2 separate regions of the Homo sapiens genome follow, and region 2 is reported to be linked to region 1. The links are microRNA targets in miRTarBase. Many come from high-throughput screens and were not tested one by one. Region 1 holds a microRNA gene; the other region holds the end of a gene's coding sequence.

Region 1 (3,229 bases):
TGCACAAGGGAGGCTCCCATTACTGTTCTGTTGGCTTCTAGACCCACCATCCCCTCTCTTTCTGTGGACTCTGCCCGACTTCTGGCCACATGCAACCAGCAGAGTAAACTGCTCCAACACCTCGGGCATGTCCTAGGGCTTGCCCTCCCACCAGGGCCAGCCCAAGATTAGGTCCTCAGCAGCATCAAGGTCTGGGAGAGCCACTGGCCCACATGTCACCATTCTATTCCTCAGCCTCCAACAGGACTCTTCATTTTGGGGAGGGAAAGGGAAGATGGGGCCATAGCCCCTACCTTGAAATTGTACAGTGTGGAGGGGATGTTAGTGCCTACCTGTGACCTTTCTGCTCCACTGCTCAGCAAGATGAGGTAAGGTTGGGTGTCAGAGGGGACCTCCAGCTTCTCTGAAGAGCCAGCCCTTAAGGCACTTGGAGCAAAGGTCATTGAGATCAGCTTTATGTGGAGTAAGGAGGAGGCCTGGGAACCGCTTGTGGCATCAGTTGGGGCGACAGGTGGATGAGTGTGCTCTGATGGAGCTTTTACGGCCCACAGCCACTGCCAGGAGCCTGAGCTCTTCCCCATGCTTGGGACACGTTCCTTGGTCCCCACAGCAGAATGGACATTGAATTTTGGTGCTTTTCCCTTTGGTAGAAGGTGGAGGTATCTGAGGAGTTGTTTCTGTCTTGCTACCTCTGTCTACTATATAGAGCAAGAGTCGGGAATAGGGAGATGTGTGAGAATCACTCTCCCATGGATCAGTGTGGGCCCTGTCCCTCTTCCCCACTGTCACCAACCAGCAGCTTGGGGAAAAGGCTCTGTCGTGGATTTTTGCTGCCTGCTTCCCGCTTCCACTCTTCTTGGCGGTAGATGTTCATGGTGATCCACTTTGGGCGGTCTGAAAGTAGGAGGTGGGGGAAGAGGCAAGCCTGCACACACACTTCCTGTCCACAGGGGGTTGCCTGTGGCATTGGAGGGTGGAGTCTCAGAGTCCAGGGACTGGGAGGAAGGTACTTGATGGGATGGTCTTGATTCTGGAACTTTAGACTGAGGTGTTAGAAAGGGGAATTGTTGGCTAGGGGAGAAGAGCAGTTTAACGCTCCACTTGCTAAGTCGTCTGTATCAGTGTCAGAAGGTCTTGACCTCCCATTCAGATTTAATTTCCTAACTGCCAGGTGTGGGGCTGGGGATAGAGGGCCCAGAAGGGGGCGCAGTCACTGACGTGAAGGGACCACATCCCGCTTCATGTCAGTGACTCCTGCCCCTTGGTCTTCAGTGTTTTTCTCTTCCCCAGGAGGGACTTTGATCATGCAGGATAGAATTCTCCCATCGCACACCTGGGGGCAAGTTTTAGATGAGCTTCTTTCCTCCATTTCACCTGGTGGTCTGAGGACACACAGAGGGTGGGGGTGAGCAGGCAGTGTGGGTGGGGAGGGGCTACCTCCCCCAGACCCCTTACAAACTCTGTACCTCTCGGTGCGCGGCAGCCTCTTGCTGTAGTTCTTCTTTTCTGGATATGACTGTCAGTTTCGTCATGAGATTTCTTGCTCTCATTTCGAACTCTTTCTTTCTTCCACTTTCTTTGGGGGCGACCCCCGATCCATGCCAGGTCTTCCTGTGAAGACCGTTCCAACCTCGTTTCCATTTCTTGAATGTTGAGTATTACAACATCACTGCGCTAGGGTGCTTCATGGTGCTGTTCTCGAAGAGGCCAGTTGGGCTGAATCTCCTTCCTCCCACTGGCTCCTGATATCTTGCTGTATTTTGTCTTCTTTCTGATTTTTCCCTAGGGGTTTGGGGTGGGTGACTTAGGGGCGGCTTTTGTGTTCTCCCTCTCTCTCTCTTTCTTTTCTGTATGTATGTATGGACTGGTTAAAGTGAGTTTGGGCAGCTGACTTTATGGTATGGGTTGGCTGACTTTTGTTCAACATTAAAGACAAACCAACAAATTGTACAGCTGCACACAGAACACCTTTGAGTGTGAACTTGAATGGCAACTAGAGGCTTACTTTTTGAACTTCAGGTATGTAACTCAAAAGTAAATAAAACCACTATTTTTTCAGTAAGCTTTTTTTTCTTCTAAAAGATGACTTAGAAATCAAACTATAAGAACATGAAATCGGTGCTGTACCAAAGCCTTATATGAACATATTCTACACTCTGTATAACCTGTCTGTGAGGAGCTCCCTGCTCTATCACCCTCTTCTCAAAAGCCTGGGAATGCCAGCGCGTGCCAAGCCTGGGGCTGGGTCTTGGGGACCTGTGGGCCAAGGGCACCCTGGGAAGTAAAAGATGACGGTGAGGATGGGACACCCTTCTGCTGCCTGAGCAGACTGCAAGGAAACCAGATGTGTGTGTGTGCGCGCACCTGCATATATATGTGTGCATACCTGTGCGTGTGTGTGCGTGTGCGTGTGTGCACGCAAGAGAGTGAGAGCGGGAGAGAGCTCACAGGTGCACAGTGTCATGGTGAATGTACTAAGTACGAGCTTGAAGGGAGGCCCAGGTTGGCTCTGGGAGTGGGGCGGTGTGGGAATGAAGGGGGGATGCTCTCTCCCCTGTTTTCTGCCTCCTTCCCTTCTCCGTCAGGGAAGGGAGGTGTATTGGAAACAGCTACACTCTCAATCAGGTGCTTTTTTTCCCTCAAAATCTCCAAACTCAAAGCATTTATAAGGGGCCCTTCCAATGGGCAGGCACCCCCAGCCACCAAATCACAGACTTCCAAGAGTAGGAGGAACTGTCTCCTCCCGAACCCTTCCTTGCTTTCCTGGGGAAGAGGGTTCTTCCTGCAGGGACCCTGGGCATCCTGCTGCTGGGCCTGGGCCTATAGACTGCCCTGCCCCTTCTTCCCAAACACTGAGAAGACCCCGCTGGAGATGACCCCAAAGCCACGCCTGCTCTACGGCCCTAAGCAATAGACGCCTGCCCTGGCTGCTGATGATGGTGATCCCTTTGTCCTTTGACTTGGCAGTCAAAAATGGAGTGACACCCCAGACTCAGTCAGGAAGAGAACCTGCAGCCTGCCTCAGCTCAGGCTACCACGCCAGGCTCCACTCGCTGGTATTTCCAGGCTTGCTAAGTACTAACCAACTCATCCCCAGTAACACTGCATGTTCATATCCTGAATTACAAATCAAAATGAGCAAACACGTGCATAAGCAAATGAGAAAAAAGAAGGCACACATCAAATGATGAGATGTGCAGCCAGTGCAGGTACCCCGGGAGTGTTGCAA
Region 2 (3,000 bases), not on the chromosome of region 1:
TTTCATTGCAGTTAAAGAAATTGGTCGTGATCTGTACAGGGGCTTGCCTACAGAGGAAAGGATCCAGAAACTAGAGTTCATGTTGGATAAGCTACAGAATGAAATTGATCAGGAGTTGGAACACAATAATTCCCTTGTTAGAGAAGAAAAAGAGACAACTGATACAAGGAAAAAATCACTTCTTTCTGCTGCCTTAGCTAAATCAGGTGAAAGGCTACAAGCTCTAACACTTCTTATGATTCACTACAGAGCAGGCATTGAAGATATAGAAACTTTAGAAAGTCTGTCTTTAGACCAGCACTCCAAAAAAATAAGCAAGTACACAGATGATACAGAAGAAGACCTTGATAATGAAATAAGCCAACTAATAGACTCTCAGCCATTCAGCAGCATATCAGATGACTTATTTGGCCCATCCGAGTCTGTGTAGCAGACAGGTCTATTTAAGCTTTCAAATGAACAGGGTAAAGTTGCATCTAAAGTACCACAGATACAACCATGTTTAAATCCTCGTATGCACTCTGGCCTGCTTCTCCAGTTACTTGCTTGTGTAAGAACAAAAATGAGAAAGGTTGTTTTCCAGTAAAAACATGACCAGCTTACTAATTGGTTGTTTTGGATTGCATTTATAGCTATGCTTTTTTGGGTTTATACTGGGAATTTATTTTTACTAAATTATTTAACTTTTCTAATTATGTAATTATGTAAGCTAGCTTTTCATGTTTATGTATGTATGGTGTCCCCTTGTGTTATTTTTCTTCCTCTTGGTTTTTGAATTAGTGTTAAATAGAATACTGTCTAGATTCTTAAAATATTTTCATTTCCATCATGGTTATAACAAATTTGCTGCATGCCCAAACTGACAACAGCAATCACTGAGGGAACAGGTTTTGAATCTTTCTTTTGTGTTATGAAGTTTATCGTCTCTACTTGCTTGAGATTTTTGTTATTTTGGGGGTTTGGGGGTGCTTTTTGTTTTGTTTTTGCCAAATGTAACATGAAAGCAGATGCTGCAGCTTTAGTCTGTTATGCTGATTTAGTAAAAAAAAATTTTTTACATATATTGCTTGCTTTCGATGCTTCTGTGAAATTTTTTTCTAAAGCTTTTGTGCAGCTGTATGGTAAAAATATGGTGATTAATTTGAAGAGCTTACATTGAAAGACAATGTAATAGGAAATAAATGTAGATTGCAGTTGGTCAAGAATTTTGTAGAGAGGATAACAAGACTTAATTACTGAAAAACAGTAACATAGCATTTTGAAATATAATCTTTTAAAATATTGATGCTTTCCTTTTAAATGGAAATTTAAATTTTATAATTAAAAGTTTAAACATTTATGATAATTTTCCTCATCAGTTCTCCCATAGGAAATAAAGCATGTGAAAGGGTATTTAAAGTTTTGGAGGACTCTTTTTAAAATGACTGTGTTGATAACTAGTTTGGGCTGGTTTTGTTTTAGAAAAAACATTTTCATGTAGGAGTATTCTGTGAAGGAAAGGAATCATGCAAAATATACTTTTTGCTTTGGCGTCTTACAGTTGTAAAGGAATGGTGATCATTCTGAATACTTCTGTAGTGAGTATTCATTAAGAAAAGAATGACAAAAATAGTATTCATACATAGGAATTGGGACCAGTTCTCTGAAAATGAAGATATACTCACACTGGGTCCATTTTACGGGTCCCAGTAACATTTGACTGAGGGAAAACAAGTAAGCTCGACTGTTGTTGGGGTACCTTAATGGTTTCGGTCTGTTATATACCTATAAAATAGACAAGTATATGTTTGTCCCTTTGTAGGTAACTGCTATGATGATTGCTATATAGTGAAACTGACATGAGTTTAAAACTAGATGGAGCAGCTTTTATTGCTGGCAGGAAAAAGCATGGTGTAATATTAAGGACTGGGGCCCAGGTCTAGACTCCAGGACTCCATAAAAGAGTTTAAGTTCAAGCCCTTCCATTAATGAACTGTGTAAGCATAGGCAGTTACAAAAGGACCCATCTCTAAAATGGGAATAATAATACTTTACCTCCCTCACAGTATTGTTGTGAGGGAAACAATAGCATAACTGCAAAAGTGCTTTGAACAGTAAAAAGATATACAAGTAAAAGGCATTATTTATATGAGTAAGAAAGACATTTTTGAGGGGAGAAAAGTTATTCCACTTTAAAAATCAATAGCCAAGTCTCATGCCTTTTGTTACTTTAGTAAGCGAAAATTTCAGGTACTAAATACCTTTCTTAGCCAAGTTTATAACAAAAACATCTCAGTATACTTCATTACTTATTTAAGCGTGATGTCTTTTTTTTTTTTTTTTTTTTTTTTTTTTTTTTTTTTTTTTGAGACAGAGTCTCGCTGTCTCCCAGGCTGGAGTGCAGTGGCATGATCTCGGCTCACTGCAAGCTCCGCCTCCCAGGTTCACGCCATTCTCCTGCCTCAGCCTCCGGAGTAGCTGGGAGTACAGGCGCGGCTAATTTTTTGTATTTTTAGTAGAGACGGGGTTTCACCATGTTAGCCAGGATGGTCTCGATCTCCTGACCTCGTGATCCACCTGCCTCGGCCTCCCAAAGTGCTGGGATTACAGGCGTGAGCCACCACGCCCGGCCACGTGATCTTATTTTAAAAGAACACTGCTATAGAAGAATTTACACACCAAATTCCCTGAAAGCTAAAGTATTGTTCCATAACTTACACTTGAGGCAATCTGCTCAGTGTGTAACCACTTTATAAAAAATAACTTACCATTGATAACCTGGAAGGTGGACTACTTGTAAGTAGCTGGTGTTTATTGATTAAACCATGGAAGTTTTCATGATACCCAAGCATGTTGCTGAAACTGATGCATTTGAAAGAGCTGTTGAAATAATGCAAAACTTTGGTTTTATAAGAATCTACTCATGTTTTAAAAGTATTTAACTCTGTAGACCACAATTATAGAAAGCTCAGTAATGCTGCTAATGACATTTGTAAACTATATCTGTAATGTAGTGCAATA

What was found. The annotated mature microRNA hsa-miR-4697-3p reads UGUCAGUGACUCCUGCCCCUUGGU and lies in region 1 at 1,243-1,266, shown strand. An mRNA with a match to its seed (bases 2 to 7 or 8) in the 3' UTR can be bound and repressed. Matches are read on the target gene's strand: a 7mer-m8 pairs with bases 2 to 8, a 7mer-A1 pairs with bases 2 to 7 and ends in A, and an 8mer does both.
Region 2: miRTarBase lists PDZD8 as a target of hsa-miR-4697-3p. Seed matches in the 3' UTR shown: 7mer-A1 at 859-865 and 7mer-A1 at 1,833-1,839.

What each region holds. Positions count from the first base shown.
Region 1 is chr11:133,896,543-133,899,771 of GRCh38, reverse strand. It overlaps MIR4697 (microRNA 4697), which reads left to right and starts at 1,191; the gene lies at 1,191-1,268. It overlaps IGSF9B (immunoglobulin superfamily member 9B), which reads left to right. Exons shown (of 20, transcript NM_001277285.4): 20 at 1-3,229.
Region 2 is chr10:117,280,698-117,283,697 of GRCh38, reverse strand. It overlaps PDZD8 (PDZ domain containing 8), which reads left to right. Exons shown (of 5, transcript NM_173791.5): 5 at 1-3,000. The coding sequence ends at 430. Among named protein-coding and RNA genes, the nearest start is that of SLC18A2-AS1, 40 kb to the right of the region's middle.